Homo sapiens: one gene and its partners. The protein of the gene in region 1 interacts with the protein of each later gene in a pairwise test. Each region holds a gene or a part of one and is shown in the gene's direction. Other genes may lie near its edges.

Region 1 (8,285 bases):
CAAGTGCAGAAATCGTGTCTGGGCTTTGTCCCTTCCCGCCGTTCACTATCCCCTCCCCCCGCCCCAACCTGAAGGCTGAGCACAGAGGACCACCAGGGAGGAGGCCCGGACGTTGAGCACCCAGGGTTAGCAGCCGGCAGACTGACACAGGAATCCCAGCCCTGTCATGTGCTGGCCGTGTGACGCTGGCTGTCACCTAGCCCAGGCTGAGAGCCTGGTTTCCTCCTCTCACAAGGTGCAGCACCACATCCGGAGGGCTGCGGAGGGGTTCGGGGAGGAAATGCGTGGCCGGCTTGGGCACCAGGTCTGGCACTGAGTGGTGGGACTGGGCTGGTGACACTCAGTAAGACAGTGGTGGATTGACTTAGAAGGGGCCTTTCATCGTTTACTTTCTATCCAAGTAGAACACAGGGCTGGGGAATGCTGCCCCCACCCCAGCCATTCCTGAGCCCCTAAAGCCCAGGAGCCCCTCACAGCCACCGGGAGAGAAAAGCTGCCAGCCTCCCGCTGACAGCCCGTCTTCTGTTCCACCAGGATCTCTCAGCATTTGATCCTGCATTCTGAGGTGGCAGCACCAGGGCTGGCCCTATCAGAATCTGACATTTCGAAAGCTGGTGTCTGGGTCTGCCCAGGTTCTCATCAGCTCCAGCCAGCTGTCCCTCCAGCTGCACCTGGAAGCGGGGCCGAGGCTGCCCGCTAGGTGCTGGAGTTTAACACACTCCTCTTTTATTTTCCAAGGAACTTCCCATCACACAGGGCTCCTCACGCCAGGAAACTCGGCTGTTGGGGTGGGAAGGGGAGAAAGGGAGGTGGAAGGGGGACAGGAGGCAGGAGGGGGAGATGGATGGGAAGAGGGAAGAGGGTCTGAGGATGCCTGAACTTCAACCCACTGGTGCTCATCCAGCCTCCCGGGAAAACAGCCCTGCAGAGCCCCATGCAGGAGGAAATGGATTTTAACTGGATTCACAGAGAGCAGGTCAGACCTCCATGAGAATTCCTGATGGTACAGGATCAACTCAGCCCTCCCTCCTCACCTTACTGTCCAGCCACCTGTGGGTCCCTGTGCCCCGAACACCCTCCCTGGGCCTCACTGTCCCATTCCCTGCCCGGAAGTCCTCCTAGCAAAGCTGGCCCTGAGCCTCCCCACACGGCACACCTGTGCCCTCCTCAGCTCCCTTCAGGCTGGTGCTGTTGCACCTGTGCGGTTGGAGGGTCTTCCTCGGGGGAGGGGGCCTGAGGCCTGCAGGGCCTCCCCAATCCCCTCTCCTGCGCCAGATCCTGAATGAGGGGACGGGGACGGTTGAGTCCTGTCTCACCAGCACGTGGCCACACTTCAGACCACTGACTTATCTGTGGACCACCCATCGTTAACGCCCTCTGAATTAACTCAGCTGTTTTGTGTGGCGCCTACTGAGCAATGACACCTGTGAGATCAATGGCTGTGCCAGTCATTCTTGCTCAGGGGAACATTAGAGTCACAGGATGGTTTTCTGTGGTGGGGCACCCTTACCTGCTGCAGGATGCTGGCCTGTGCCACCCCAGCTAGACTGGTGATGCAACGTGGAGCAGGGTCCTTACTCCATGTCTCCCCACCTGTCACTGGGGACCACGGCATGCTCCTACATACACAGAGCAAGCACGTAATGAGTGGCTTGTGGCTGCAGCAGAAACCTCTCCAGCTGTCCCTATGGCCCTCCCAGTGCCCTCAGCACACCCAGTTCCTACACGTTCCTCCAGAATAGCCCCTGGTTACTCTCAAAGCCCTTCACAGGCATGATCTTCCGGGGTCCTCAAGCACACCAGTGAGATGGACAGGCAAATGAAGAAACTGAGGCAGGCAGTCCAAGTGGCCCAGGGTTTCCCAGAAGCCCCAGCTCATTCCTCCAAATCCTTGGGCTCGCTGGTCTAAAGCCTGGTGATTACCAGGCAGGTGGGCTGTTCAGACCTGTGCACAGTAAAGAGCTGCTTATAGTGGAGGTGCTGGATACATGTGCCCCAGCCTGGAAAACAAGCCATGCCAGTGAACGTCCAGGTCGACTTAGGCCTGGCACAACTGTCGCCTTCTCAGACCTCACCCAAGTGCCCTCCACTTTGGGCAGGATACCAAGGAATGAATGGCAGGGCCTGCATTCCTGGACCTGGGCACTACGTATATTTTTAGCCTCTGCCTTCCTGGGCATTTGCAGGGTGGCTAATGTTCTCAGGGAGCCACCAGCTGCACACCCACGGGCTGGGCAGGCACTCGGAGGTCTCTGGGAACTGCACCCTCCCTGCCTTCAGTCCGGGGGCTCAGAGGCCAGCTCCTTTTCAAGGCAGAATCAGCTCCTGCTAGTGAAGCATGCACCCCACCCCCAACACAGCCAGAAGCCTGTGGCTCAGAAACTAGGAGGCATGAAGTACAGGATTTGTGACCTTGGATTTCCTTACTTGGAAAATGGGGTGGGGTGGGGGGACAGAAGGACTTTGACTCCACATGGGATCACCAGGCCAGCTCACTCAGGAGACCTGGTTGGCACCTCCTCCTGACAGGTGCACCCTGTATATCCAAGTGGGGAAGGATGTGCTGTGTTGAGAAGCTGAGAGTCTGGGTCGCGCTTCCCAGGGCCAGATGCCCCAGTCGCTGGAGACCTCTCCTCCCTGAGCTGGGCTGACTCCATGGCTTTGCTGTCTCTGTTCTCTTCCTGCATATGATGTTCCAGGAGCCAAGAAGCAATTCTAGAATGTACAGGTCAATCTTGGCAGATGAAACTGAATTTTCCCTCTTCTCTTCTGCTTCCTGTGTCCCCTTCCTTAAACTCATCACTGTTCTCTTACTGGCCATTGCCGGGCTCTGGTGGGAGCAGGTTGGCTTCACCTTTGTGAAGAGACAAGAGACAGTGTGATGCGGCCCCAAGCCTGTGGAGGATGCCACCAGGCCAGACTGCAACTTCTCTGCGTGACTCCCCCGTGCTGGGCCTCTGTTTCCCCTTCTGTCAAATGGGGAGTCACAGCGTCTACCCTGCAGGGCAGGTAAGATCTTCTTATTATAGTCAGAAACACATTCTAGGTCCTTACCAAGTCCACACTTACACAAACAGGTGAATTAAATATTTCACAAAATAATACTTACTTTCACCATGCGAGATACTATTATTTTCTTTTTTTCCTTTAGAAATAGGGTCTTGCTGCCACCCCTGCGTGCAGTAGTCCAATCACAGCTCATTGCAGCCTCCAACTCCTGGGCTCAAGTGATCCTCCCGCCTCTGCCTCCACCTCCCCAGGAGCTGGAACTACAAGTATGTGCCCCCACACTCGCCCAATTTTTTTTAAAGTTTTTTTTTTTTTTGTAGAGATGGGGTCTCCATATGTCGCCCAGGCTGATCTCAAACTCCTGGCCTCCAGTGATCTTCCCGCTTCGGCCTCCCAGAGTGCTGAGATTACAGGCATGAGCCACCCACCACGCCATCTGATATCTTCTAGCTTATTCTATTTCATTTTTATTATTATTTTTCTTGAGACGGGGTCTAGCTCTGTCGCCCAGGCTGGAATGCAGTGGTGAGATCTCTGCTGACTGCAATCTTCACGTCTCAGGCTCAAGCGATTCTCCTGCCTCAGACTCCCGAGTAGCTGGGGATTACACGTGTCTGTCACCACGCCCGGCTAGTTTTTTTGTATTTTTAGAGTAGAGACAGGGTTTCACCATTTTGCCCAGGCTGGTCTTGAACTCCTCACCTCAAGTGATCCGCCCGCCTCCGCCTCCCAAAGTGTTGGGATTACAGGCGTGAGCCACCGCGCCCAGCCTATTGCATTTTTATAGTCACCACCCACTACTTTTTTTTTCCAGGACCCAATATTGGTCCGTGATCTGATGATGTTCACGGTCAAGACGGAAGCAAAAAAAGCACACACCGCGCGCCCTCGGTCACTAATCACGCGGAGTATACGCGAGGAGGGCCCGCAGCTAAGCGACGGCGGGCGGCCGAGCTTCCTCCACGGCCGGGGAGGTGGGCAAGGCCTCCGGGCCGCAGCCCCGGGTACGAGCGGAGGCTCCGAGGCCCCCGGTAGCCAGTCAGAATTTATTTTAAGGGAAATGGAAAGCTGCGGCAGGCTTTGGGAGGAGGGGCAGGATTAAAAGAGAAAGTGTGCTCAGCATGTTATATTTAGAGGCTGCCACGCCGGAAGCGCCGCCTTCCCGGGAGCTGCCGCCGCGCCCGCCCCCCGCCGGCACCTGGGCACTGGGGCGGGAGTCCCGGGGCTGCCCGGGAACACCCGGCGCCCAGGGCCTCCGCCACTCCCCGGTCCCCCATGAGGGTGAGGGCTATAGGCGCATCTGGCCCAAGATAGGGGAGTCGTCCGGACCCCACTTCTGTAGGAGGGGAAACTGAGGCCAAGGGGGCAAAGCCCCCGTGTTCGCGGCGCCCAGGGTCCGGGGCGGCGCCGGCACGCGCGCGGGCGGGGCCTGGCGCTCCTCCCCGGTCCCGCCCACTGAGCGTGCAAACCGCAGCCGCCCGCCCACGCGCACGCGCGCTCCTCCCGGGCCGCTTCCCACCCCTCCCCCCGCCCGCTCAGTCTCGTGCTCCCAGCTCCGCGAGGGGCCCGCCGGGAGCCGGCCGAGGGTGGGGCGGATCGCCGGGGAGACCCGCCCCCGGCCAGCGGCGCCTTGCTGCGCAGGAACGACGCGAGGGCCCGCCCCCCAGCTGGCGGCCCGGCCATATTTAAAGGACGGCGGGCGCGGCGAGCCAATGGGCGGCGAGCGTGAAGGGGCGGTGCGTGGCGGTGCGTGGCGGCGCGAGGCCCCGGATGTGGCTGCGGCGGCCCCTCCTCCCCCGCGCTCCTCTCAGAGCCCCAGTCGCGCGCCCCTTCTTGGTTCGCTCGGTGCCCGCGCAGGCCCCTCGGGCGGTGGCGAGGAGGCGCCCAGGCGGAGGCGGCGGCGGGCGGAGGAGCGCAGGAGCGGGCGGCCAGGCCACCGCGCGGCGGCGGAGCGGGCCGCGGCCCGGCGCTCCTTCCCCACCGCGGCCCGACGCACCCCGGCCGCCGCCATGAGCGGCTCCTCAGGCACCCCGTATCTGGGCAGCAAGATCAGCCTCATCTCCAAGGCGCAGATCCGCTACGAGGGCATTCTCTACACCATCGACACCGACAACTCCACCGTGGCGCTCGCCAAAGGTAGCGGCCGCCGCCCGCCCGAGCCCGCTGACCCCCGTCCGCCAACAGCCCCGGCCTGCGGTGCCCTCCCCGCCCCGGGGCGCCCCGGAGCCTGGCGCCCAGACCCCGCCCAGAACCCACCCAGGGCACACCCGGCCCGAGATCCCCTGCCCGCGCCTTCACCCCGGACGCCCCCGAGGCGCCCCCTTCCCGCGCGCCACCCTCCCCCAGCGTAGCCGGCCGCACAATGGTCTCCCTGGGCTCCCAGGGCGGCGGGATTGTGCGCGGGCGCCCGGCGGTGTTTGGTGAGGGGCGGGCCCGGCCCCCGCGGTGCCGCCCCCTCGGCCGCCCAGCCCACCTCTGCAGGTGCCAGCTCCGAGGAGCAGGGCGGCTCCCGTCAGCGGGCCTCCTCCCCGCCAGCCTGGGGGGATCCCTGCGGGGGAGCCTCGAGGTCGGGTGGCGGGGCCAGTGTCCCGGCGTCTCCCGAAGGCTGGGGGTGGGGTCACAACACGCGAATCCTGCAAGCCTTTCTGGAACTTATTAGACAGCTGGGGCCTTGATCCTGAACAAATACCGCGTCCTAATGCGGCCTCCTGCCAAGGCAGAAGCATCCGTTGGCAGCCAGATGCCCCGGTTTAAACGGTTCTCCTGCTCTATCCTGACCTTCCCACTGTGGGGCTTACCTTTTGGTGACAGCCGCCTGTGGGTGCTCGTAACCGGCTGTGGCCGCTGGAGGACTTACAGGAGGGGGGCTCTTTAGAGTCAGAATCTCTGAGGTTGTTGAGGCAGCGGGTGGTCCAGAGTTTCTTTGTCTTCATCACCCAGAGAAGACGGGGAGTGCACTTCCCCTGCCTCTCAGAGAAAAGTGCCCGTGGAGCCACGTCTGCCTAAGCCCGTGTGTGTGCTGGATCTGGCGCTAGGCTCCCAGGGGTTCTTGAAGTGTCTAGACGCGTCTGAAACGCTGCTTAGGTCACAGGGAACTTCATGTGTAGAAGAACGCACTCATTCCAAACAGGGAGTGTCTCCTTTTGAAGCCCGTCTCCTGCGTGGCTTCAGGAGCTTGTTGAGTATGCCAGGGCTATGCACTCACTTGCAGCCATGGAACCTCACTACACTTATTACAGGAGAGCCCAGTTAGAGAAGCTGAGGCCCAGAGTAGGCCCAGGAGTTAGCAGGAGTTGTGTCTTACCAGTTAGAGGCTGCTGTCCCACCCACCTCTGCCCCTAGAGGCTTGCTAGAAAGAGACTTGGGCGCTCCTGGAAGCCTGCTGGTTAGGGGTTAGTAGACTCAATTCCTTATAGATGCGGAAGCCGGGGTCAGAGGTCCATAATCCTGGGACCCTGTCTCCCTTTGTTTTCTGTTACAGCTGTTCCAAGGTTTGTTATGGATAGAAGGGTAAGGGCAACACTCGTCTAGATTCCTTTGTGAGAAAACTGCCTCCTCAGGCGCAATGTGCGGTGAGGCTTTGGGCATAAAGCAGCCGGCTGGCTGTTGGATCTACAGAGTCAAACGTGAACAGGGAGGCCTTACGAAGCAAGCCTTGTTTTGCTGAGAGCTCTGTACGTTGGTGCCTTCGCACATCAGACTGTCAGTCTGTGAAATTGTTCCTTGTCATCTTTGTGATCTAGAGCTGTCTGTTGTCTGGAGCTTCACCAATTGGTGCATTATCAGCACTGTCCATTGAAAATCGGGGCATTAAGTAGTTGTTGAAATGTGGACCTGGGGTGCTGTGTTGTGGCTCTGAGCAAGTGTCGCCGTCTTTTGGAAGGCTTGGGAGCAGTGGTGTCAGGGTTGATTGAACTGGCTGAGGACAACAATAACGCTTCTCTTTCTCCACTCATAAGTGAGGTCCTTTGGCACTGAAGACCGTCCCACAGATAGGCCTGCGCCCCCCAGAGAGGAGATTTATGAGTACATCATTTTCCGAGGAAGTGACATCAAGGATATCACTGTGTGTGAACCTCCGAAAGCTCAGCACACACTCCCGCAGGATCCCGCCATTGTTCAGGTAAGTGTGCCACTGTCCCTCTGTGCATGCTGTAGGAGATGCTGGTTTCCATTTGGAGCTTGGTGGCATGTTTGGTCAGAACGCTCAATGTGAGGAATAACCTTTTTTTTTTTTTCTTTGAGGCAGCGTCTCGCTGTGTCACCAGGCTGGAGGTCAGTGGCGTGATCTCAGCTCATTGCAACTTTGGCTTCCCAGGTTCAAGCAATTCTCCTGCCTCAGCCTCCCGAGTAGCTGGGACTACAGGGACGCACCACCATGCCCAGCTAATTTTTGTAATTTTAGTAGAGACGGGGTTTCACCATGTTGGCCAGGATGGTCTCAATCTCTTGACCTTGTGATGCACCCGCCTTGGCCTCCCAAAGTGCTAGGATTACAGGCGTGAGCCACCACACCCAGCCTGAGGAATAACCTTTTAATGAAAAGTGGCTTAACTTTTGTCCAGGCTGTTGCTGCTCTCACAGAAGGTGTTGATTCTTGTAGCACACACAGTAGGTGGTGTGTGCTGTGTCACGTGGCTCTTAAGGAAGGCGACCTGGGGAGTTGGGTGTGCATGTGCGCGTGTGTAGTGTAGTGTGGTATGAGTGGATGCTCCTGGACCTGTGATGTTTCGGGCATAGCGTTTGCCCTTAGTTTCTGGTTGGAGAAGTCTGAGCCCTGAGCAGCTGCTGTGAGTGGCGTGACCTACCTGCAGGGACTGCAGGGCTTGCCCTCGGGTTACGCCCAGTCGTTACATGCTGCTGTTATACAACACCAGATTTGCAAGTCTGATGCCATGTGCCTGCTTATTGGGTTATGGCTTATTTTGCCCATGCTCCCCCAGGGAGCCCAGATTAATATTTTCTTCACTTCTAAATTTAAATATTCACTAGCTCCTCTGGGGTTCAGACTGCATTAGGTTCTGTGCTGAGCACCCATCCTGGAAGGTGGGATCACACAGGGCCGGCTTTGGGAGCAGTGGGAAGCCATCCGATGGCTTTGAGTTAGGAGAAATTTGGGTTAGAATTACATGGACAAGACACCTGTAATCCCAGCACTTTGGGAGGCCGAGGTGGGCAGATCACCTGAGGTCAGGAGTTCAAGACCAGCTTGGCCAACATAGCAAAACCGCGTCTCTACCAAAAATACAAAAATTAGCTGGGTGTGGTGGTGGGCA
Region 2 (7,781 bases), on another chromosome or scaffold:
CTGGAGAGTAATTATTATTTTGGCTTATGCAACTGAAAAGCAGGGTTCGTTATTACCCGAAGAGGAGGAGGAGTCTGGGGCAGTTAATTATATAATGCTCCTGCCTGTCAAAGCCGTGCCCAGCCCCGGTCTCAGGCGGCCTTTTCTGTGCCGTTGTTGTTTTCATGGAGCAGGTTGGAGAGCTTCCCTGACCCTGGGGCGCTGAGGGCCGGGCGGGAGCAGACGGTGCTCCCTTGGTTCCAGGCTGTGGGCCTGTGTGTGTGTGTGCGCGCGCGTGCAGGCACAGGGAGGCCCGGGCAGCAGATGTGGGTGGCTGAGACAGGCAGGCAGCCTGGCGCTTCCAGCTGGGCTGTTTGGAGCCCAGGGGCTGCTATCACCCCCAGGCTCTGGCCAGGAGGCTCTGCAGACCTGTCCTCCAGAGGTGCTCCTGGCTGAGCCTGCTCCAGGAGGACTGTGCAGGCCGGGCTCACGCAGGGCATGGGGACGAGAGGAGCCAGGGCTTTCGTTGTCTCTGAAACTCCTCAGAATATCTGGGGGTGAGGCTGAGCACCCCACTCTGCCCACGCTCCTCAGACATCTCCAGAGTCCTGAGGAATCATTTCTTTCATTCAACAAATACTGATGGAATGTTTGCTATGAGCCAGGTGTGCCAGGCTCTGGGAAAACCACACTGAGCAAAGCAGACAGCCAGGTGTCCTAGGCTTTGGAAAAACCACACTGAGCAAAGCAGACACAGATCTTTGCCCTCACGGAGCTTACATTTGAGGGAGAAGGAGCGGCGATTATGTTGTGACTTTTTAGGGAAGAAAGGATCTGATTCTGTGGCTGGCCGTGTAGTTTAGGATCTGACGGGTTAAGGGGAGAGATGTTTTTCTCTATAGGTCCACTTCCCTGGGCTCTCCACTCCAGCCAGACAGCTCCCTCAGCATCCTGCTCCCCTAAGCCCTTCCCCTCCTTGTGGTCCTGCCTGATCATGTCCATTCTACAGATGAGGCCAGTAAGGCCCGGGCTTTGTGATTCAGGAGTCCCAGCCTTTGGCTGCAGGGATCCCCGATCTGTCTGGGACCAAACCCCCCTCGTTCTTGCATCACATTGCCGGAAGAAGCCCAGATTGTCAACATCCTCTCAAGGGGTATGCGGTTCTTAGCTCTCCCATAAGCAAAGCCAGGCAGGGATGCAGATGGGGAGCTTCATGGCCGGCTCTCCCTTTTGGTTGGCAACATGGCATGACAGGAAATAGAATTGACCCTTCTGGTCTTGAGGACTCGGGCCTGGACATCTGGGCCACTTTTCTGGAGGGCTCCCAGCTTCCTGTTGGGAAGGGGGTGATTATGGCACTGAGTGTCCCCAGGCAGCCCATGGAAGGAGCCTGCAGGGTGTGGGGATCGCCAGAATGGGGCAGAGACCTCCATGCCTCCTTCCCAGTCAACTGGTGGGTGGTGACAGCCATGTCGCAGTGAGGAAGGAGTTAATGGCCCCAGCTCCACTCTGACTTTTCCTTTGCACAAGAAGTGGGGGAATATTGGGCAGCCATCAGCGAAGCTCTGGAACCTCAGCCCAGCTCTGGGCGCTGACTTGGGGAAATGGCGATTTTCATGAATGATGCACCAGCGGCCAGCGTATTCCACATGTAGCTGGAATTGGTGTGGAATTTCAGCTGGGGACACCTGTGCCAACTCCTCCTCCTCCAGGTGTGTCCTCCCCTTAGGGTACTCCCTGATTGAGCTGAGTAGCTCCTACCGTCTGCATGGTGAGGCCTGGGGGTGTGGGGTACAGGCACACTTGCTTCCAGTCACAACCCCAGCTTGCATCCTGGGCTTGAATCCCTGCCCTACATGCCCTGTTTTGTGACCCTGGTTGGATTACTTAACCTCTCTGAGCTTGTTTCTTCATCTTTACAAAAGGTTGATAACAATACCTGTAAGGTGGGTGAGGATTAATTGAGAATGGTGTGCGTGGCTATGCCAGGAATATAGTAAGCATACATTATTATTTACCGTTAGTTTTTTCATTACAGTTTCCAGGCAATGCATGTCACTTACAATGATCATTATTAGAACCAACATCTGGACAGGAGACTGGTGATCATGTAAATGATGTTAAATAGCAACATTAGATACTTACTGTCTGCCAAGCATGTGGCAAGTGTTAAATGAATTACAGCCCTTAATTCTTACACCTCTAGAGGGTGATTTTCTTGTTATTCTCATTTTCCACACTGGGAAGTGGAGGCTCCCAGTGGGTGTGGGTTGGGAGGAACCAGCAGGCGTCACACTCAGGACAGCCATCCCAGAGCCTGGGCCTTTGCTAGGTACGTCGCTCTCTAAATGCCCCTGTGCAAAAACACCTCCTGTTCTTTCCTCTCGTTTATATCTCTCGTTCTCTTGTGCGTACAGTGGCCCAGAATTGCAGGTGAATGCCCATGCACAGACGGGCAAACCCATACACTGCCCAGGACCCCTGGCCCCCTGAGGCCCACCATGCATGCCGGTGCTGCACCGCACAGGTATAGATCTTTCCTTCGGGTGCTGTGTACACAGAACCCCTCGAATCGAAAGTTACCCCCTCCAATAAGCCCTCCTACACCCTGAAAGATATGAGTCATCTCACGCCCAAGCCTCTCCCCCTCATACTCAGGTCCCGTTCACCGGCCCAGATTCCTCAACCCACACAAATCACACACACCCACAGTCGGAATTCAGATCCCCCCAGGCGCCTGCGCACACACACGCGCACAAAACACCTGCCACCCGGAGACATTTTCCACCCCGTCCCCCAGAACGCAGCCACTGCGCCCTTGCGGCCTTGCTTGCTCTCCACTGGCCAAGGACTCTGAATCTCCACCAGGCCTGTAAACGGGGAGCTCAGATGACAGAGGCAGTGGTGTGCTTCGTTTCCATTTTAAACACACGTTTATGCTGTTAGTGCCCTTTTAGGGAGAAAAATCCCTCATCTCAACAAAATAAACTACCATGGGGCGTATGCTTTGTGCTTGGCTATGACTATGACTATGCAACAAGTAATTTCTTTTTCAAATGAGTGCCCAGGTTAGAAGGAATCAGGTTCATTGGTGCGGAGATTATGCCAACAGAAACTCATTTCAGAAACAAGAAGCAAGCCCTGAGCAGTTGGAGACGAAAGCGTTTTCTCCGAGATTCTCTTTCCGCTACTTCGGGGGGCGGGTGGTGAAAGGCTCCGTAAGGTGAAAAGAGAAAGGAAGAAGCAAACAGCTATTTTTTTGTTGCCAGTTATAGCTGAGAAACAAATGTGGCTGAAGGGCACCCCTACCCACGTTGGCCGTGAGGCCGTTTGATGGGCTTTGTGTGAGGAATCCTGAGATGAGCTGGCCGGGGAGTGAGGACCGGCACCCGCCTACAGCAGCGATCTGGAGTAGTGAGTGAGCAGCCCCAGCTGACACAGAGAAGGAGAGAGAGAACTCTGACCCCTTCTCTTCTGAGGACACCCAGCCGGAGAGAGCAAGAAGGGGTGGAGTGTGGGGGTGGGGGCAGGAGCCTCTGCTGTTCCTTTCCAAGACTTTTTCTTCCTGTTTTCCCCAAGCCTCCACAACTCTAAATATGACGAGCTCTCAACTGTGAGCTAATAATGTTGAATGTAACGCCCTTTGTGTCCTTAGATGACAAAAAGACTTGTGAGTACTAGAGGAGAGGGTGATGTTGGTGTGAATTTTCCACATTGGTCCGTGTCTCCGTGGACTGGCCGCTTCCCCCGCTGGTAGCTTCATGGCTGTGAGAGGCCATGCGGTGGATGGAGCCACCGCTGCACTGGGGTCCTGGCTCGAACTTGAGTAAGGTGCTGTCTTCCAAGTCTGGAGAGGAGAGGAGGAGAGAAGAGAGGCAGTCCCTTCAGCACCTTGGAGAGCGCTCCCGGCTGCCTGCCTGGGTTGGGTGGACGGCTGGACTCACTTTCGCTCTAGGCATCCTCTTCAAGCCAAACCATCTCTCCTTGCCAGTGACCGCCTGGTCCCGGACCCTCCAGCACACTCAACCACCAGAAGTGTGCCTATGCCTGTGCCAGATGTGGGGGCCACGCCTGCGATCCCAACACTTTGGGAGGCCGAGATGGGAGGTTCACTTGAGCCCAGGAGTTTGAGACCAGCCTGGGCAACATTGTGAGACCCCCGTCTCTACAAAAAATACAAAAATTAGCCAGGTGTGGTGCTGCACGCCTGTGGTCCCACCACTCAGGAGGCTGAGGTGAGAGGATCGCTTGAGCCCCGGAGGTCAAGGCTGCAGTGAGCCAAGATGGTGCCACTGCACTCCAGCCTGCTGACAGAGCCAGACCCCATCTCAAAAGAAAAAGAAGAAGTGTGCCTGGTCCTACTCAGTCGGTGCATGGATTCCATGCTCCAGGAAGGGCTGCCACTTGGCATGCCTGCCTATGTTTTCACCCCTACCCTGTCAGTCCTTCCTGAAGAAGTGAGTGTCTTCTGAGGTAACATCCTCTGCTGGTCAACTGGGAGAGCAGCTCCCAGCTTGTGGAGGTGGGTTTGGGGGTGAGACTTTATTTTTTTGTTTTTATTTATTTATTTATCTGTTTTGAGATGGAGTCTCACCCTGTAGCCCAAGGTGGAGTGCAGTGGAGTGATCTTGGCTCATTGCAACCTCTGCCTCCTGGGCTCAAGTCATTCTCATGCCTCAGCCTCCCGAGTAGCTGGGATTACAGGCATACACCACCACACCTGGCTAATGTTTTGGGTTTTAGTAGAGACAGTGTTTTGCCATGTTGGCCAGGCTGGTCTTGAACTGAACTCAGGCGATCTGCGTGCCTCGGCCTCCCAAAGTGTTGGGATTACAGGTGTGAGCCACTGTGCCCGGCCTAGGGTGAGACTTTAGTAAGATGTATAGAAGTTGCTCTGAAGTCTAAGGTGTATTCCTGCCATAGGATATGTGTGTTCACTTCTCTTGGAGCATAACAGGGGTCATAGGTGCACAGCCGAAGGCAGGCAGAGGAATGATTTGTCTGTACCAGTCAGTGAAACTGTTTCACCACCATTCTCTTTACATCTGCCTCAATGGGTGAGTCCTCTAGACCAATGGTCCCCAACCTTTTTGGCACCAGGGACCTGTTTCATGGAAGACAATTTTTCTACCGCCCAGGGTTGAGGGATGGTTTTGGGATGATTCAGGCGCATTCTATTTATTGTGTGCTTTATTTCTATTATTATTACATTGTAATATATAGTGAAGTAATAATACAACTCACCATCATGTAGAATCAGTGGGAGCCCTGAGTTTGTTTTCCTACAACTAGACGGTCTCATCTGGGGGTGATGGGAGATAGTGACAGATCATCGGACATTAGATTATCATAAGGAGTGTGCAAACTAGGTCCCTGGCATGAGCAGTTTCCAGTAGGCTCTGCATTCCTATGAGAATCTAATGCTGCTGCTGATCTCACAGGAGGCAGAGCTCAGGCAGTAATGCAAGCGTTGGAGAGCGGCTGTAAATACAGACGAAGCTTCACTTGCTTGCTTACTCACTCGCCACTCACCTCCTGCTGTGTGGCTGGGTTCCTAACAGGCAACGAACCAGTACCAGCCACATTTCACGGGCTCAACAGCCACCTGGGACTAGTCGCCACCATATTGGACAATGTAAATCCAGAACATTCCATCAGTGCAGAAAGCTTTATTGGGCAGGCAGCACTGGTCTGGAGTGTAAGTTCCATATGGGAAGCGGTTTGTGTCCATGCTGGTCACTGCCATGTGCCCAGTGACTAAAATGGTGCTGGCACGTGGTGGTCAATAAATATTTGTGGAATGAATGACCTGTGCAAGTAAATGCGGTAGTATTTGGTAATTTTGTTTACCGTCATTATTTCGTATGCCTGTTTCATTGCAAGACCTTAGAATTGGACGTAGTTAAAGGAAAGTTTTTCCGTGAGACCCTCATGTCCACAGGTCAGTCTCCCTTTACAATTAGCATTAAAACATGCCTGTTCTAATTCCTTGATCAGTTTTGTTTTGTGGTTGGCTTTGTCATTGCTCCTTAAGAGACTGCCAGTGTTTCATATGAGAAAGATGATGGTGTTGAATGCAGTGAATAATGGAGCGATACCAGCAGTCATGACTGGGAGGCATTTTTGGACCACGATTTAATGAGTAGCATTCATTGCAAAGTGCAAAGAAAGGCCCATGGAAAGATGAGTACCCTCCAGTCTGCTTAATTCCTCACTATCTTTTTACTGCTCCCTTTTCCTTGGCTTGATTCGTTCAGTCATTGGAGAAGCATTTGCCAAGTTCAGACCGTGTTCAAGGCACAAAGACAGAAAAGCTCAGGTCCAACCTCAGTGAATCAGCCTTAAGTATTTGCTGAGCATTGAGTATGTACGCAGTACAGAGTTTGTGGTAACGTGGAAGATTGGAAAAAAAGAAACAAACACATAAAAATGAAAATGCAAGAAATAGGATGTCCTATGTTCTACCAGGAAGAATAAGGAGTCTGAACAGGGATGCAAAACCGAGATATATGGAATAATTCAGGGTTTCTCATGCCACAGTGGGGGTCCTGAATGGGAGCACCACAGGGCAGGGACCTGAGGAGGGGCAGGGCAGGTGTGTGTGTCCCTGAAGGAGCGGCAGAGGCTTCTGGGGGTAGGCAGTGCCTGAGTTGAGTCTGGAAGGGCAGTAGGGTGAGAGTTGTTATCCCAAGCCTGAGGCTGCAGATTTGTTCGAGGCCATGTCTCCCTCAGCCTCAGCTTCCCCATCTCTATGATTTAGTCATGACATTTTTTTCCTTCTCAACATGTGCCATCTCCCTCCTACCTATGAATGTCACGGGTATTGTTCTGGACCCAGGGAAGGCTCGCTGGTGCAAATGCTTTCCAAAAACACCGAGAGTCGCTCTCTCTGCTGCTGGTGGAGTCTGAGTTGGGCAGGACATGGGCCCGCCTCTGTCTGCTGCTCTATGCCAGTGCTTCCCAAGCCTGAGTGTTACAAGAACCACCTGGAAGGTGTGTCAAGACACAGATTTCCAGCCCCACCCCTGAGTCTCTGGGCCTGGGATGCCACCCAAGAATTTATATTTCTTACAAATTTCAGGCGATGCTGAGGCTGCTGATCTGGGGACCTCACATTAAGAACCACAGTCCTGGGCTTGTGCCTCCTAAGCCTGGCTACACATTCGAGTCACTAAGAATGTCCCTGGGAGACGGTTAGAAATGCAGCGTGTCAGGCCTGCCTGACCTCCAGGGTCAGGATGTGTGTTTGGAGATGCTCAGGTGGCTGCAGTGCAGGAGATCCTGCTTTGGTGCACTCACTTTAACCCTAGCTGTGCATGAGCTTCATCTAGGTTGCTTTAGAAAATGCAGATGCCCGGGCCCCACCCACAGGTGCTGATTGAGGTCCTCTGGGTACAGCCTGGGCATTGGGATTCTTTTTATTTTAATTTTTTTCAGACGGGGGCTGGCTCCGTCTGTCGTCCTGGCGTGCAATAGTGTGTGATCGTGGCTCACTGCAACCTCTGCCTCCTGGCCTCAAGCCATCTTCCCACCTCAGCCTCCTGAGTAGCTGGGACTGCAGGCATGCACCCCCATGCCCAGCTAAGTTTTGTTATTTGTTGTAGAGATGGGGTTTTGTCGTGTTTCCCAGACTGGTCTCAAACTCCTGAGCTCAAGCGATCCGCCCACCTTGGCCTCCTGAAGTGCTTTTACAGGTGTGAGCAACTTTTTTACAGGATTACAGGTGTGAGCAACTGCACCTGGCCTGAGATTATTTTTTAAACATTCCAGGTGATTCTAACGTTCAGCGCAGGTTGAGGACC
Region 3 (7,781 bases), on another chromosome or scaffold:
GCCCAAGGGACAGGAAACCCTAAGCCTTCCCAGGCCCTAGTCTCTATCTCCTGAAAGGGTTCAGAGTAAAGACCTTCAAGACCCTAATACAAGGTAATACCTGGGGGGTTTCATGTTTGTTAGTATCTGTCCCATCTACCTTGAACTTTGTTCCCCGACCCTAGGCCATCATCAACAGCACTGTCACTCCCAACATGACCTTCACCAAAACTTCCCAGAAGTTCGGGCAGTGGGCCGACAGTCGCGCCAACACAGTCTACGGCCTGGGCTTTGCCTCTGAACAGCATCTGACACAGGTGGGCCGGGTGAGGGGGAGAGTGGAGGGAACCGATGAGACTGGGCCCAAGTCTTCTCCTGGGCTCACTCTGGGATCTTGGGCAGGTCCCCTATCTTCCCATCTGCAGGATGGGATTGTAGGATGAGTTGAGACTGAAGCCCCTTTAAGCTTCCCCGGTTTGATTCCTAGTTCATTTTTCTGTTTTTTTTTTGAGATAGGCTGCAGTGATCTTGGCTCACGCAACCTCCGCCTCCCGGGTTCAAGCGATTCTCCTGCCTCAGCCTCCTGAGTAGCTGGGACTACAGGAGTCCGCCACCACGCCCAGCTAATTTTTTGTATTTTATTAGAGACAGGGTTTCACCATGTTGGCCAGGCTGGTCTCGAACTCCTGACCTGAAATGATCTGCCTGCCTCGGCCTCCCAAAGTGCTGCAATTACAGGCATGAGCCACTGTACCTGCTCTTGAGTCCTAGTTCTACTGCCTGTAGCTCTAATTTTGGACACACCCTGCTCCTCTTTGGGACATCAAATGGGTGGCTGGGCTGGGCTGGGCACTTTCCCACATGCCCCAGCAATACCTTCATCCTCACCTCCCTGCACCCTGTGCCGTCTCTATACTTCCATTATTATCTTTATCCGTGGTTTTGTTGATGATGAGTGCTTTCACGAAGATCTTCTTCTTTTTTTTTTTTTTTTTTTGGAGATAATGCCTTGCTCTGTCCCCCAGGCTGGAGTGCAGTGGCACGATCTCGGCTCACTGCAACCTCCACCTCCCGGGTTCAAGCGATTCTCCTGCCTCAGCCTCTGGAGTAGCTGGGATTACAGGTGCCCACCACCTCGCCCAGCTAATTTTTGTATTTTTAGTGGAGATGGGATTTTGTTGGCCAGGGTGGTCTTGAACTCCTGACCTCAGATGATCCACCTGCCTCGGCCTCCCAAAGTGCTGGGATTACAGGCATGAGCTACCACACCAGGCTTTCTTTGTTTTCTTCTAGAAGGTTTAGAATTTACCTTTCTTCTTTTTTTTTCCCTCCCTCCCTCCCTTCTTTTTTTTTTTTTTTTTAACAAGATCTTGCTCTGCTGTCCAGGCTGGAGTGAAGCAGTGCAATCATGGCTCACTGCAGCCTCAAACTCCTGGGCACAAGGGATCCTCCCACCTCAGCCTCCTGACTAGCTGAGACTATAGGCGTATGCCACCATGCCTAGCTAATATCTTTAATCTTATTTTTTTTAGAGATAGGATCTCACTATGTTGTCCAGGCTGTTCTTGACTCCTGGCCTCAAGCGAGCCTCTCACTTTGGCCTCCTAAAGTGCTGGGATTACAGGCTTGAGCCACTGCACCCAGACAATTTACTTTTTTTTTTTTTTTTGAGACGGAGTCTCGCTCTGTCGCACAGGCTGGAGTGCAGTGGCGCGATCTTGGCTCACTGCAAGCTCTGCCTCCCAGGTTCACACCATTCTTCTGATTCTTCTGCCTCAGCCTCCCTAGTAGCTGGGACTACAGGCGCCTGCCACCACGCCCTGCTAATTTTTTTTGTATTTTTAATAGAGACGGGGGTTTCACCGTGTTAGCCAGGATGGTCTCGATCTCCTGACCTCGTGATCCACCCACCTTGGCCTCCCAAAGTGCTGGGATTACAGGTGTGAGCCACCGCGCCCGGCCCCAACAATTTACCTTTCTAATTTAGGTCTTTTTTTTTTTTTTGGAGACAGAGTCTAGCTCTGTTGCCAGGCTGGAGTGCAGTGGCCCGATCTCGGCTCACTGCAACCTCTTCTCTCCAGGTTCAAGCAATTCTCCTGCCTCAGCTTCCCAAGTAGTTGGGATTACAGACACACCACACCTGGCTAATTTTTGTATTTTTACAAAATTTTTGTTTTTTTAATTTTTGTATTCTTAGCAGAGACAGGGTTTCACTATGTTGGCCAGGCTGGTCTCAAACTCCTGACTTCAGGTAATCCGCCTGCCTCAGGCTCCCAAAGTGATGGGATTACAGGTGTGAGCCACTGCACCCAGCCTAAAAAATCATTTATTTATTTATTTATTTATTTATTTTTTTGAGACAGAGTTTCACTCTTGTCCCCCAGGCTGGAGTGCAATGGTGCGATCTCGGCTCACCGCAACTTCCGCCTCCCCGGTTCAAGCAATTCTCCTTCCTCAGCCTCCCAAGTAGCTGGGATTACAGTCATGTGCCACCATGCCTGGCTGATTTTGTATTTTTAGTAGACATGGGGTTTCACCATGTTGGTCAGCCTGCTCTTGAACTCCTGACCTCATGATCCACCTGCCTCGGCCTCCCAAAGTGCTGGGATTACAAGCGTGAGCCACCACACATGGCCTTATCTATTTATTTTGAGACAGAGTTTTGCTCTGTCACCCAGGCTGGAGTGCAATGGCACAATCTCAGCTCACTGCAACCTCCACCTCCTGGGCTCAAGCAATTCTCCTGCCTCAGCCTCCCAAGTACTAGGATTACAGGCGCCCACCACCATGCCTGGCTAATTTTTGTGTTTTTAGTAGAGATGGGGTTTCACCATGTTGGCCAGGCTGGTTTCGAACTCCTGACCTCAAATGATCCGCCCGCCTTGGTCTCCCAAAGTGCTGGGATTACAGGTGTGAGCCACCGCACCCGGCCTAAAAAATTATTTTTAAACTAAGGAAATTTATTTTAAAACCGGGGTGGTGGGGGGAAACATATCCTATCCTAACTGGAAAACTGGTATTGCTTTGTCATAAATAGGTGGTAAATGTAAACATGTAAACATTTAATACAACAAAAACAAGAATGAGATGATTACTTTCTCATTGACTTCTGATGTCTCTCAGAGCCTGAGACCTAATCTCTTTGTTATAAAGGAATAATAACAGGTGTTAAAGACAGATTAGCACCCACCTGAGGCTCTCTTTGTTGAAATAGCCCTGATAAAGATTAAAAGGGACCCCACATGTTGGCTCATACCTGTCATTCTCACACTTTGGGAGGCCGAGGTGGGTGGATCACGGGGTCAGGAGTTCGAGACCAGCATGGCCAATATGGTGAAACCCCATCTGTACTAAATACAAAAATTAGCTGGGCGTGGTGGCACGGGCCTGTAGTCCTAGCTACTCGGGAGGTTGAGGCAGAAGACTCGCTTGAACCTGGGAGGCAGAGGTTGCAGTGAGCTGAGATGGTGCCACTGCACTCCAGCCAGGGTGACAAAGCGAGATTCTGTCCCCCCCCAAAAAAAAAAAAAAAAAAGGCTGGGTGCTGTGCCTGTAATCCCACCACTTTGGGAGGCTGAGGCAGGCGGATCACTTCAAGCCGGGAATTTAAGATCAGCCTGGCCAACATGGTAAAACCACATCTCTACTAAAAATATGAAAATTAGCCAGGCATGCTGGTGCATGCCTGTAATCCCAGCTACTCATGAGGCTGAAGCAGAGGCTGCCGTGAGCCAAGATCATGTCACTGCACTCCAGCCTGGGCAACAGAGCAAGACTCCATCTCAAAAAAAAAAAAAACAAAAAACAGGAAAAGGGCCATTCTGGGGAACATGGCTAGACCCCGTCTCTAGAAAAAATTAGCCGGGCATGATGGCACACACCTGTAGTCCCAGCTCCTTGGTGGAGGGGTAAGGTGGAAGGGTCACTTGAGCCAGGGAGGTCAAGGCTGCAGTGAGCCGAGATCATGCCACTGTACTGCAGCCTGGGTGACAAAGTGAGACCCTTTCCTAAAAAGAGGACATGGGAATTCCTTTCCCTTTCTCAATGTGGCCCAATGTATTTAAATGCCACCTCTGTGATCTGATGCCACCTGCCCACCCACCATGGTACATCATTTTTCAAAGTTTCTCTCCTTCTTCCAAGGTGTGTGATAAGGGGATGGGTACGGTTCGAAAGTGGCGGGGCTGTCACTGAGTGATGGTGACCTGTTTGGGAGGATGGGCTGGGGTTTTACTGTCTTTTCCTCCCCACTCCCTTAGTTTGCCGAGAAGTTCCAGGAAGTGAAGGAAGCAGCCAGGCTGGCCAGGGAGAAATCTCAGGATGGCGGGGAGCTCACCAGTCCAGCCCTGGGGCTCGCCTCCCACCAGGTCAGCACTCCCTACTCCCCTATGCCTGCCTGGGCACCTGTGAGTCAGCCAGGCGCTCAACTGATATTGGGGGACCTTGATATTGGGAGACCGGGGCACTCTGCTGGTCGTCAAGACCCAATGCTTCCAGATGACCTAAGGTTAGACCCACAGCAGGGACCACAGAGGAGTGGTGTGGAGTGTGTCATAGAGGGTCTGGACCTTGCCTGGGGCCGGTGGGGTACACCCAGTAGGTCCCAGTAGCAAAACCAGCTCAGATGGCAGGATGGAAGACTAGAAATTGAAATGGCTAAGTGTGGCCGGGTGCGGTGGCTCACGCCTGTAATCCCAGCAATTTGGGAGGCTGAGGAGGGAGGATGACTTGAGGCCAAGAGTTCGAGACCAGCCTGGCCAACATGGTGATACTCCACCTCTGCTAAAAAATACAAAAATTAGCCAGGCGTGGTGGCATGCGCCTGTAGTCCCAGCTACTCGGGAGGCTGAGGCAGGAGAATCGCTTGAACCCAGGAGATGGAGGTTGCAGTGAGCCGAGATCGTGCCACTGCACTCCAGCCTGGGTGACAGAGTGTGACTCTGTCTCAAAAAAAAAAAGAAAGAAAGAAATGGCTAAGTGTGAGGCAGAACAACGAACTGTCCCTGCGTGTTTTCCCACATTAATTTATTCAGCATTATTTATTGAGCACCTGCTGTGTACCAGGCCGAGGGCTGTGCACAGGGGTTGGAGAGATGAAAAAAAGCATGAGCCTCCAGCTGCTGCCTGCACTGGGCTGCGGTGGCGCTGGCCTCTCGCAGGGCACCCGCCAGCTTGTCTACCCTCAGAGCCAGTGGTCCAGGCAGTGGGGTTGCTCACGAAACACGAATTCGGCCTGGGCAGGGCTTCCTGCTGAAATCCTAAACGTGATGTTGAAGTTCGGCCTCAGGGAAGGGAACAGCAGGGAGGTGTCCGATTGTACCCCTCCCCTACCTTACAGGTTCTAAGTATCTTGGTTTAGACTAACCTGCATCAGACTTGCTCCTGGGGGTGGTGAAAGCCCAGGAAGGCAAGGTCGAGGGCGTGGGCATGGAACTCCCAGCTTAGGGGCCACAGGGAGCCATGGAGGGTGGGTGAGGTGGGGAGGGACACACTTGGATCCTGTGCTGTGAAGGACCTGCTTAGGGTGCATAGGTCAATTGCACCCCCGATGTGACGACCCCAGTCACATCAGCCTTGATCCCAGCTGATGTGGGGTCGTGACCTATTCTTTTCCCCGTGCCTAGGTGCCCCCGAGCCCTCTCGTCAGTGCCAACGGCCCCGGCGAGGAAAAACTGTTCCGCAGCCAGAGCGCTGATGCCCCCGGCCCCACAGAGCGCGAGCGGCTAAAGAAGATGTTGTCTGAGGGGTGAGGGGCGGGACTTGGGGGCGTGGCAGGGGCGGGGGTAGGGGTGGGGGACGAGGAGGCGGTTCTTGGAAGCCAAGGGAGTGCCAGGACGGCGGGATCTAACTGTGGACTCAAGACCTGGGGAAGGGGATGAGGATCTGAATGCTGCCCCATCCAGAGCCGACCCCGCCCCTACCCTGCGTTGGCCACGCCCCTCTGTTTTGACCCCATCCCTGTCTCTTCTCGCTGCTAACCTCGCCCCGTCGATGCCTCTCTGGTCTTAGGATAACCACCCTGACCACGCCCCCATCGGCTGACTCTCCCCAACCTCCCATCCCTCCCTCAACATTCCCACAGTGTCACTGGGCGGACTCCACGTGCCCCCTTCTTTGACTCGGTCCTCGACAAGACCCCGCTTCTGCGGGACTGCCCCATCCCCAAGCTCAGCAATCAGTGTCGCCACATCCCCAGCCCTGCGTGGCCCTGACTCCGTGCCCTAGCCCAAAGCCACCCCTCCTCTGGCCCCGCCCCCTAGCCCAGCATCGCCCGTGACTCCGCCTCAGCCCAGCGCCACCCACCCTGGCCCCGCCCCCTAACCGAGCATTGCCGCTGACTCCGCCCCCAGCCCAGTGCCACTCCACCCCTGCCCCGCCCCCTAGTCCAACTTCGCGCACGACTCCGCACCCTCGCCAGCCTTCGCCCTGACCTAAGCCCAGAGCTATCCCACCCCTGGCCCCGCCCCCTAGCCCAGCATCGCCCGACTCCGCCCCCCAGCCCCGTGTCACCCACTGCCGACCCTCGTGTCTCTGCAGCTCCGTGGGCGAGGTACAGTGGGAGGCCGAGTTTTTCGCACTGCAGGACAGCAACAACAAGCTGGCAGGCGCCCTGCGAGAGGCCAACGCCGCCGCAGCCCAGTGGAGGCAGCAGCTGGAGGCTCAGCGTGCAGAGGCCGAGCGGCTGCGGCAGCGGGTGAGGGCACCCCTCCCTCCGAGAGACCCCCACCTGGCCCGGGCAACTGTGGAGACCGCGCCTCGGCAGTTCCCATCTGCCCTGGGTTCATGGACTAGCTGTGTGACCTCAGCAGGTCACTGACCCAGCCTCAGTTTCTTGCTCTGTAAAATGGGTTTGAGACAATGCCAGCCTCAGAGGGTGATCAGACACTAAAGTCCAAGCTGTGCAGAGGGGGGTGGTGGCACCAACCAAGGGAGATGGGTGCTCGGTCCTGGGCGTGGCCAGACAGGAGGCAGATTCCCTAGAGGTTGGGCGAGCAAGGGAGAGTGCAGGCGGGGGCGTCAGGGGCTGCTATTCCTGCCCTACAGGTGGCTGAGCTGGAGGCTCAGGCAGCTTCAGAGGTGACCCCCACCGGTGAGAAGGAGGGGCTGGGCCAGGGCCAGTCGCTGGAACAGCTGGAAGCTCTGGTGCAAACCAAGGACCAGGTGAGTGCCAAGTGTGGTTCCTGGGCCTCGCCTTCCCTCACCTCCTGTGGGAAAGCCAGGACCCCCGCAACAGACCCTGGGAACTCTTCTCCTCTAGGAGATTCAGACCCTGAAGAGTCAGACTGGGGGGCCCCGCGAGGCCCTGGAGGCTGCCGAGCGTGAGGAGACTCAGCAGAAGGTGCAGGTGTGTGTGGGCACAAGGAGGTGGGGTGACGGTGGGTGACAGTCACCTCAACAGACACTCAGGACAATATCTACCTAAGATGATAAAGTATTGGGAGGCCCAGTCCTGTGGAAGGCCTGATGCCCAGCAGGTGCCGCGTGAACAGTGGCTGTTGGTACAGTTTCATATCCATCTATGGGTTCAACAAGCAATGCTTGAGTTCCTGCTGTATTCCCATGCCAGACCCCGTCAATTCCTCCTGTTCTCAGCCTGAGATCACAGAGCCTGCATTGGAACTAGGTCTGGCTTGGCTTGGCTTTATTTTTTTTTAATTCTTTGAGATGGAGTCTCGCTCTGTTGCCCAGGCTGGAGTGCAATGGCACGATCTCAGCTCACTGCAACCTCCACCTCCCGGGTTGAAGCAATTCTCCTGCCTCAGCCTCCTGAGTAGCTGGGATTACAGGCGCCCGCCACTACA
Region 4 (7,778 bases), on another chromosome or scaffold:
GCACAATGTTAAGTGTCTGCTGGTTCTAATGAGAGATGTTAGACCATTTACCCAGGGCTTACTAAATGATGAGCCAAAAACTCCTGTCACCCATGCCCGTTTGCCACTCTTCAGCTTATGTACAGGAGAAGGCAACAGTGAAAGAGGGTTGTTACAGTTCTGGAAGCTTCCTTCCCACCCCCACTCCAAGGCAAGTGAGGGTGACTTTGAGAGAACCACTCAGAGAGATTGACAGGTGCCCCTGTTGTAGAATGGTGTCTGACTCTCCAAAAAAAAAAAAAAAAAAAAAAAAAAAACAATAAATAGGCGAGAAGCCAGCTAGAGCTACCTAAGACCAACTGTGAAGATGACGAGAAGGGCTGCAGAGGGAACAGCCCTGCTTCCAGGGCTGGGCGGGGAGCAGGGCCGCTGGGTTGTTCCCATGGGCTAAGTGCACATCAAGCAAGCAGCTGGGCCTAGGCTGTCTTGGAAGGACCCTGACCAACAGGCCTGCAGGTGAGGTAACCCGACAGAAAAAGTTTGTGTGGGATGTGCTACCAAAAGCAGGAGCCAGCGGTTAACCAGAGGGTGCAGCATCTGAACCATGGAATGGGTAATAAGGGGCTACCAGCAAAGGGAGGGTCCTCCAAAAAATCTCCAAAGTGGGCCCCTCCAAAGAACAAAAGAGGTATTAGGTTGGTTTAAGCAATCTGTGGCCCACCAGCCAGGGACTGCCTGACCCGTTGAACTAGCTCTTCTGGAAGCCTCTGGGGATGTTCACTGGAGATACCATGTTCGCTGCTTCTCTGTCATTTCACCTGCATAAGTCTGAGAAATATGTTGCAGAACTTAAACATAAAGTTTCTGTTTCTATAATGTATGACTTTTTGTTCTATTTCCTAATATTCTGTAACTCCTGAGATTTCAAGGGAACTCTTCATCGTTTTAATCCCATGCCTTATGTACTGTGACTTATAAGAACATCCCCAGTTAAGCCCAGTGTCTGGTCCTGGTGTTTTATCAGGAAATGAACACCGGCCGGCACCTCAGAACCCAGAAAGAGGCAGTTTCTATGACCTCATTCCATGGAAAACATCTGTAACTGTTCCCTCAGCAATGTGTAACATTAGCCTCTGGAGAAGGCCCATAAGATTTTGTCTCTCTTCCGTGGGAATTTGCAGGAAAGGGCTGTCTGCATGAGCTCAGAATATCTATTAATATATTGCCACTCAGAGACTTAATAAGGATTGAAAAGAGGTTTCCGCTGCACTAAGGGAAATTTATCAAAGAGAATTCCAGAGTATTGAAGCAGCTGAAAGATGATTTTAAAACAAAGGCCTGAAAACTATGCATGATAAATTATCATAGATGTGAGTACTTTTATAGGTATTCCATTTTTAAATTGCCCAAAAGAACAAACTTTTCAGCAACCTCTTTAGAATCCACTGGCAGCCCTAGATTCATTCCAGATGAACTCAGCCAGAAATTTCTACAGCAATGAGCATGTTCTATATCTGTGCTATCCAATATGGTACCCACTAGCCACAGGTGGCTATTGAGAACTTGACATTTAGCTAGTGCAACTGAGGAACTGAAGTTTAAATTTTATCTGAATAGCCACATGTGGCTACTGTAGTAGACAAGGCAGGACTACGCAGTAATTATAGCTTGCCTCTTAGTTGAAATAATGGTCTTATCCTTCACACCAGAGAAAACACTAGGTTGTTTTTGATTTTAGACTTTTGAGTAATTTCTGTTTTTTTCTTCAGCATAGAGTTCATGAGAAATTGATTATAATATGCCTCAAAGCTCTAATGACCACTTCTGTAGTAACTTCTAGTTTCCAAACTGACTCCTTCAGATTGAGCCTTTCATAGTTTGAGTGCCATTGTTTTGACAAATATCAGATATTTTAAGAATTGCATGTTACAAATCTGATCACAAAGAAAGTATTTTTCCTAGGTAACTGTCTAAAACTAGAGATGGTTGGTCTAGGAGCCAATAGTCCTTCGGATTTTTAAATCAGTGTTTACAAAGTGGGGCAAGAGTACTCATAAAATGAACCAAAAAAGTAACAATGAGAAGAGAAATACCATTAAAGCATGTTAAATTAAATAAGCAGGAGGCTATTGGCTCAAGGCTGTCTCTGTACTTTGATTTTCTACACAATGAATTGCAATTTAACTTAGTACATAAATACACTGAAAGCTTAACCTAAGGAAGAGTATAATAAACAGCCAAGTCTCAGCCAAACACAAGCAGACAAGCTTCAGCCAATCACAAGCTGCCAACTTCTCAGATCATATCCAAATGATCTGATCATTGATTGCAACCAATCAGCCTATTTCTGTATTTTACTTCCATTCTCTGTCTATAAATACTCACGGCCCACAAAGCTCTCTGAACCTATTCTGATTCTGAGTGCTGTCCGATTCATGAATCATTCTTTGCTCACATAAACTCTGCCAAATTTAAATTACGTCAATTTTTTTTTATTTTAACAGGCAAAAGTAAAGATTATCAAGCATTCTTTTCCAACCAAACTTTAGTCAGTCTCCTGACTAGGCCTATCTGTGCACTTCCTTGTAAAATCCAGTTTTAGCAAAAAGCCTTGATAAATCAGTTTAGCCAAAAGCAACCACCCTCAATATCTGATCACCCTTAATATCTGATTTGGTTCCTCATCCTCCACCAACCTCCAGGTGACATCTGATCACCCTGGCCCGTCTTCAGCAAGAATCTTGTCAGGTTGGTTTAGACAGAATCCCCCTTACCCCTGATGTTTCCTCTTAATAATTTTCCATCCACTGACCCCCCTACCTTGCTCCTTGGCTATAAATTCTCACTTTTCCATGCTACAATTGAAGTTGAGCCCAATCTCTCTTCCCCACTGCAAGACCCTGTTGCAGTGGTACCTATGTCTATCTCAATGGTCCTGAATAAAGTCTTCCTTACCATGCTTTAACAAGTGACAAGTGTCATTAAATAATTTTTTTTTTTTGAGACCAAGTCTTGCTCTGTCGCTAGGCTGGAGTGCAATGGCTCGATCTCAGCTCACTGCAACCTCCGCCTCCCGGGTTCAAGCGATTCTCCTGCCTCAGCCTCCCAAGTAGCTGGGATTACAAGCACGTGCCACCACGCCTGGCTAATTTTTTGTATTTTTAGTAGAGACGGGGTTTCACCGTGTTAGCCAGGATGGTCTCGATCTCCTGACCTCATGATCCGCCTGCCTCGACCTCCCAAAGTGCTGGGATTACAGGCATGAGCCACCACGCCCAGCCAAATAATTTTTTCTTTAAAAAGGTATTATATAATCCTTAAACATTTTAGCCCTATAATAGACAGCAAGAAAAAAGTAACCCCTGACAGCTCTGAGCTGCCCCGGCAGTCACAGCTGGGCCTTGGTGCTGCGTGGAACATAAATACTTCACAGAACACCATCAGACGTGGCCACTCTTTGACCAGATGGATCAAGACAAAAACAAGACTCCTTCGTAATCACGTGGGAATGCTGAAAAAACGTAAACATTGTCCAAACCACAAAAATGACCAAACATCCCCTATCCCAGTTAATGAGTCACTGGTCTTGTCTCCCCTCCTTTTAGGTAAGATTTATTATGATACTTAATCATACAATCGCCCTCCTTCCTGCCAGCACCCAGTCCAGAGTATTGGATTGGATACTCTGTTTCCCTGAACCTTTCCCCAAATTACCTTGGGGTAAGGCATCAGCAAAGGAGGCTGTCACATTCGTTCAACCATCACTGTGCTTTTACTGGCCCTTTGCAGGCAAAGAATGAGAATATGCACAGATGAGAAGTCCAGGATGCACAAGACCACTCAATTAACATTTACTACTTTCATATCAACTGATGCATGCTAGGATGCTAAAAACACTTTTTGAATTAATTACTGCGTTAAATAGATTCACATTTATGTCTACAGTTATGTGAACATCTAGCTGAGCACTGTCTTGACTGTCCTGAGTAGAAGCAGAAAAGATAAGTTGTAAAGTACATCAACAAACTTTGCTGCTAAAAAACGAAAGTGCAGTTTCTTTCTCTCGGGCCCGGGGCGGGGCCATGGCTCCTCCTCTAGGAAGCCGCGCGAGCGCAGTCCCACGGCAGCCATTTCCCTAGCGCGCATGCACTGGGTCCCAGGACCACGTGCGCCGGCCTGTGGGCTTGGATTGGCTGAGCCTTGACGTTGTCCCAGTCCCGGTGATCGGAAGTTCTCCGTGGGCACTGGGCGGCTGAAGGCTCCGGAACTGCGCCTGCGCTTTTCGGTGAGTCATGCTTCAGGTTTGCCAGGGCCTGTGTCCCGCAAAAAGGCGAGCCCTTATTCCCAGCGGAAGCCCACCCCGGCTCGCGGCAGCTTTCCGGTGCGCCCTGGGCGGCGTAGATCCGAAGGTGCTCGCACCCCCGCCCCTTCCTCTCCGACTGTCGAGGTCGCCAGAGTGGGCTGAACCCTCGGGACTGTCGCTGTTTGTGTGCTGGGTGCCGGGCCGTCATCCCAAGATGATTAGCGGCAGGCTTTGCATGTTGCTCGACCCCACCCACCGGAACTCGAACCCGGGCTAGACCGGGCAGTTGGGCTGGTCCCTTCCTCTCGCTGCACCTTTACTAGGGGTCACCATTAAGGGAAATGGTCCTAGTGCAGTGCTGAGTGGCTGTTCAGTAACCGCTACACCGCTGCCAACATTTGGCATCGTTTCTCTCCATAGAGGGCGGGGCTCCCTGTGAAGCTGGGGAGCTGTTAAGTGGGTTAGGGCTAGAAAGTTACAGTTTCTCTTTAGGCTTTAAAGAGATCTAAAGATCTGAACAGATCTAGGTTATTTTTGACTTGTTACAAACTTCTGGAAACATTGTTTCCAGACCTTTCCTCTCGTTCTTCTCAGGGTTTAGGCCATTTTTGTGCAGATGTGTGCACCTTGCTTACTATAATATTAGCTAATCTTTATAAGTTTTTATATGGATCCAATACCATATTTCGTGCCTACTTTTCCTGGCACTGTATACACTTTTTGGTATAGGTATGCACCTAAGCAAGCATTATCCATATTAGCATCAGTTCTAGAACCGTGGCGTCCCAATAATGATAGCCATTAGTTACATAAGGCTTGATCACTTGAAATGTGGCTAGTCCGAATTGAGATGTGCTGTAAGTGTAAGACACAGTGAATTTTCGAGAATTAGCATGAAAAAGAATGTAAAATATCTCAATTTGTTTATATTAATCACATGTTGAAATGACTATTCTGGATACACTGGGTTAAATAAAATGTATAATTAATTTCACCAATTTTTATTTTTTAACATGACTACTGGAAAATTTTAAATCATATTTGTGGTTTACATGTTATATATATGTTGCACAGCCCTGCTCTAGAAAAGGGTCAACAAACTATGGCCTGCAGCCAAATCCAGCCTGCCTGTTTTTGTAAACAAGTGTTACCAGAGCAAGATCATGCCTATCCATTTATGTTATTTTCTGTATCTGCTGTTGCTGCTACAATAGCAGCAGAGTTGAGTAGTCCATAGAGATTGTATGGCCTACAAAGCCTAGAATATATACCTTCTGATCTTTAACAGAAAAAGTGTGCTGACCCCCTGCTGTAGAACAATGCCTGGTTTGGTAGATATTTTTAAGCCTTTTAATTGTAGATTCACATCCTATTATTCACACTTACTGTGTGACAGCCATAGTTCAAAGCACTTTATCAAGACTTTCATTTAATTCTCATTAATCCTAGGATGTTGGATTTCTCCCATTTTGTAGATGAGGAAATTGAGGCACAGAATGGTCAAGAAACTTATCCAACTTGCTCAGCACCCCTCACTTCTGGGAACTGGACCTGCTTGACCTTCCTTATGCAAATGTTTTGACCCCTCAAACCCACTTCATTAGCCCACAGTGGGCACCATGGTTTTTTTGTTTGTTTGTTTGTTTGTTTTGTTTTTTTTAACAAGATTTATTTGAACTAGAATTTTTGAATGATTTTTTTGAACTAGAATCGAGATGGGCTTGGTCTCCTACGAAAGAAGCCAAGGGGCACTGGGCTTAGGTGCAATGAGTACAAGCAAGCTGGTGTGTAGTGAAAAGAAATGAAGCTCCCAAGCAGAGAAGAGAGAGAGCATCCTGGATGCTCATTACTCATTTAACAACAACAAAAATGTGTTAAGTAATAGTAAGCACTGACTGGGTGTTTGCTAGGTGTGTATAGGTGAATAAAACATGTGGATCTTCTCTTATGGTCTTGTGGGGAAGGCAGTAAAAACGTTTTTTAAATGTGATTAACACCATGAAAAAAACTTGCAAATTATTTACTGTTTTTAGCAGGTTTCCTCACCTGTAAGATGAAAATAAGCCATTATCTGTATTGCAGGAGTATTGTGAGGATTGAGATGACTGGAGTGTGTGTGGCCTGGAGAGTTGCTCAATAAATATATGTTGCCTTCCACTGTGAAGAGGTAAGTGAGAGGGTGAATATCAGGAATTGTGTACATTATGACACTTAAAATATTACAGTTGTCATTTGTAATTTGTAGAGAAGGTTGTCAGCTGCATTGTACACAGTAGGTGTTTTAAATCTTTTCTGACTGAATGGGACTCATCTAGAAAAGCCAGTCATAGAGTTGTCTGCATTCGGTCCAGGAGCAGAACCAGAGCTGTCTTTGGGGCTGATGGCAGCCTAACTGGCAGGTCCTGCTGGGGTGTGGAAGAGGGTTGTATGCCTGTGTGTGGTTTAAATCAGAGTCACCCTGGAGAGCTGAGCCAATATGCAGGCCCTACCCTCAGAGATCCTAATTCATCCTATCTGGAGTGAGGCCCTGCCATTGTTTGTTTTTGTTTTTTGTTGTTTAATTTCCCCAGAGGATTCTAATGTGCAGCCAGGCTTGAGAACCACTAATGGTGAGAGATCAGCCAGGCTCGGGATGCTGCTTGAGCAAAGGCACAGAGCCGTGCCCATCAGTGGTTGCGAGTAGTCAAGAGGGAGGCCTGCTAGGGCTCTTTTTGCCACTGGCCAAGGAGCTTTGGCTCCATCATGAAAGCAAGGGGAAACCTCTCAAGGGCTTTCAGCAGGAAAATGAGGGAGTATCTTTCTGAGATCTGTACTAGAGGATGATCCCTCTAACAAAGTGCCAGACTCACAGTTGGGCCTTGTGAGTGCCAGAAGTACAGTGAAGGCAGTAAAGAAGCAAATTGTAGCTGTCCAGATGATGGCGAGCCCAGATAGGGTTTGGTGCCATCCTGCGTGTGTTTCCCCTAGCAGCCAGTGTCTGTCCATGTTGAAATTCCACATGTGTTGTAACTGGCCAGTTTCTTGTCAGTATTACTCCCACTAGGCTATCAGCTCCTTCAAGGCAGAGACTGTCTCTTTAGGCTCAGCATCTAGCACATACTCAATCCCTAATATATATTTATTGAATGAACTATGTAGAACTAAGCTGGACATATGCCTTACCTTGTCTTTTTATGGCAATTGTCAGAATTTTGTATTTCAATGGCTTCCACATTATACCCTCCTAGGGCAATAAATCCTTTATATCCACATGATGGTCCCACAGAGGACTAGAAAGTTTGACTGGATTTAAATCCTGTTAAAAATGTGGAAGGGAATGGAAAACAATACAGTGGGTCCTCAAAAAATTAAAAATAGAATTACCATATGATCCAGCAATTCCATTTTTGAGTATATACTCTGAAGAATTGAAAGCAGGGTCTCAAAGAGAGATTGGTATACCAGTGCTCACAGCAGTGTTATTCACAATGGCCAAAAGCCAGAAGCAACTCAAGTA

The links.
Region 2: the proteins of LSM14B (region 1) and JPH3 interact in binary tests that used the Homo sapiens proteins (3 or more experiments, as listed by UniProt).
Region 3: the proteins of LSM14B (region 1) and HOMER3 interact in binary tests that used the Homo sapiens proteins (3 or more experiments, as listed by UniProt).
Region 4: the proteins of LSM14B (region 1) and TCEANC interact in binary tests that used the Homo sapiens proteins (3 or more experiments, as listed by UniProt).

The regions. Positions count from the first base shown.
Region 1 is NC_000020.11:62,117,649-62,125,933, forward strand, and holds the start of LSM14B (protein LSM14 homolog B), read left to right. Parts: upstream 1-4,826; 5' UTR 4,827-5,018; coding exon 5,019-5,145; intron 5,146-5,456; exon of another isoform or gene 5,457-5,575; intron 5,576-5,807; exon of another isoform or gene 5,808-6,036; intron 6,037-6,968; coding exon 6,969-7,132; intron 7,133-8,285. UniProt on the Homo sapiens protein: mRNA-binding protein essential for female fertility, oocyte meiotic maturation and the assembly of MARDO (mitochondria-associated ribonucleoprotein domain), a membraneless compartment that stores maternal mRNAs in oocytes.
Region 2 is NC_000016.10:87,604,727-87,612,507, forward strand, and holds part of JPH3 (junctophilin-3), read left to right. Parts: intron 1-7,781. UniProt on the Homo sapiens protein: Junctophilins contribute to the formation of junctional membrane complexes (JMCs) which link the plasma membrane with the endoplasmic or sarcoplasmic reticulum in excitable cells.
Region 3 is NC_000019.10:18,930,868-18,938,648, reverse strand, and holds part of HOMER3 (homer protein homolog 3), read left to right. Parts: intron 1-164; coding exon 165-296; intron 297-4,238; coding exon 4,239-4,346; intron 4,347-5,603; coding exon 5,604-5,725; intron 5,726-6,516; coding exon 6,517-6,673; intron 6,674-7,023; coding exon 7,024-7,140; intron 7,141-7,237; coding exon 7,238-7,324; intron 7,325-7,781. UniProt on the Homo sapiens protein: Postsynaptic density scaffolding protein. Binds and cross-links cytoplasmic regions of GRM1, GRM5, ITPR1, DNM3, RYR1, RYR2, SHANK1 and SHANK3.
Region 4 is NC_000023.11:13,648,925-13,656,702, forward strand, and holds the start of TCEANC (transcription elongation factor A N-terminal and central domain-containing protein), read left to right. Parts: upstream 1-4,216; 5' UTR 4,217-4,264; exon of another isoform or gene 4,265-4,515; intron 4,516-6,364; 5' UTR 6,365-6,449; intron 6,450-7,778.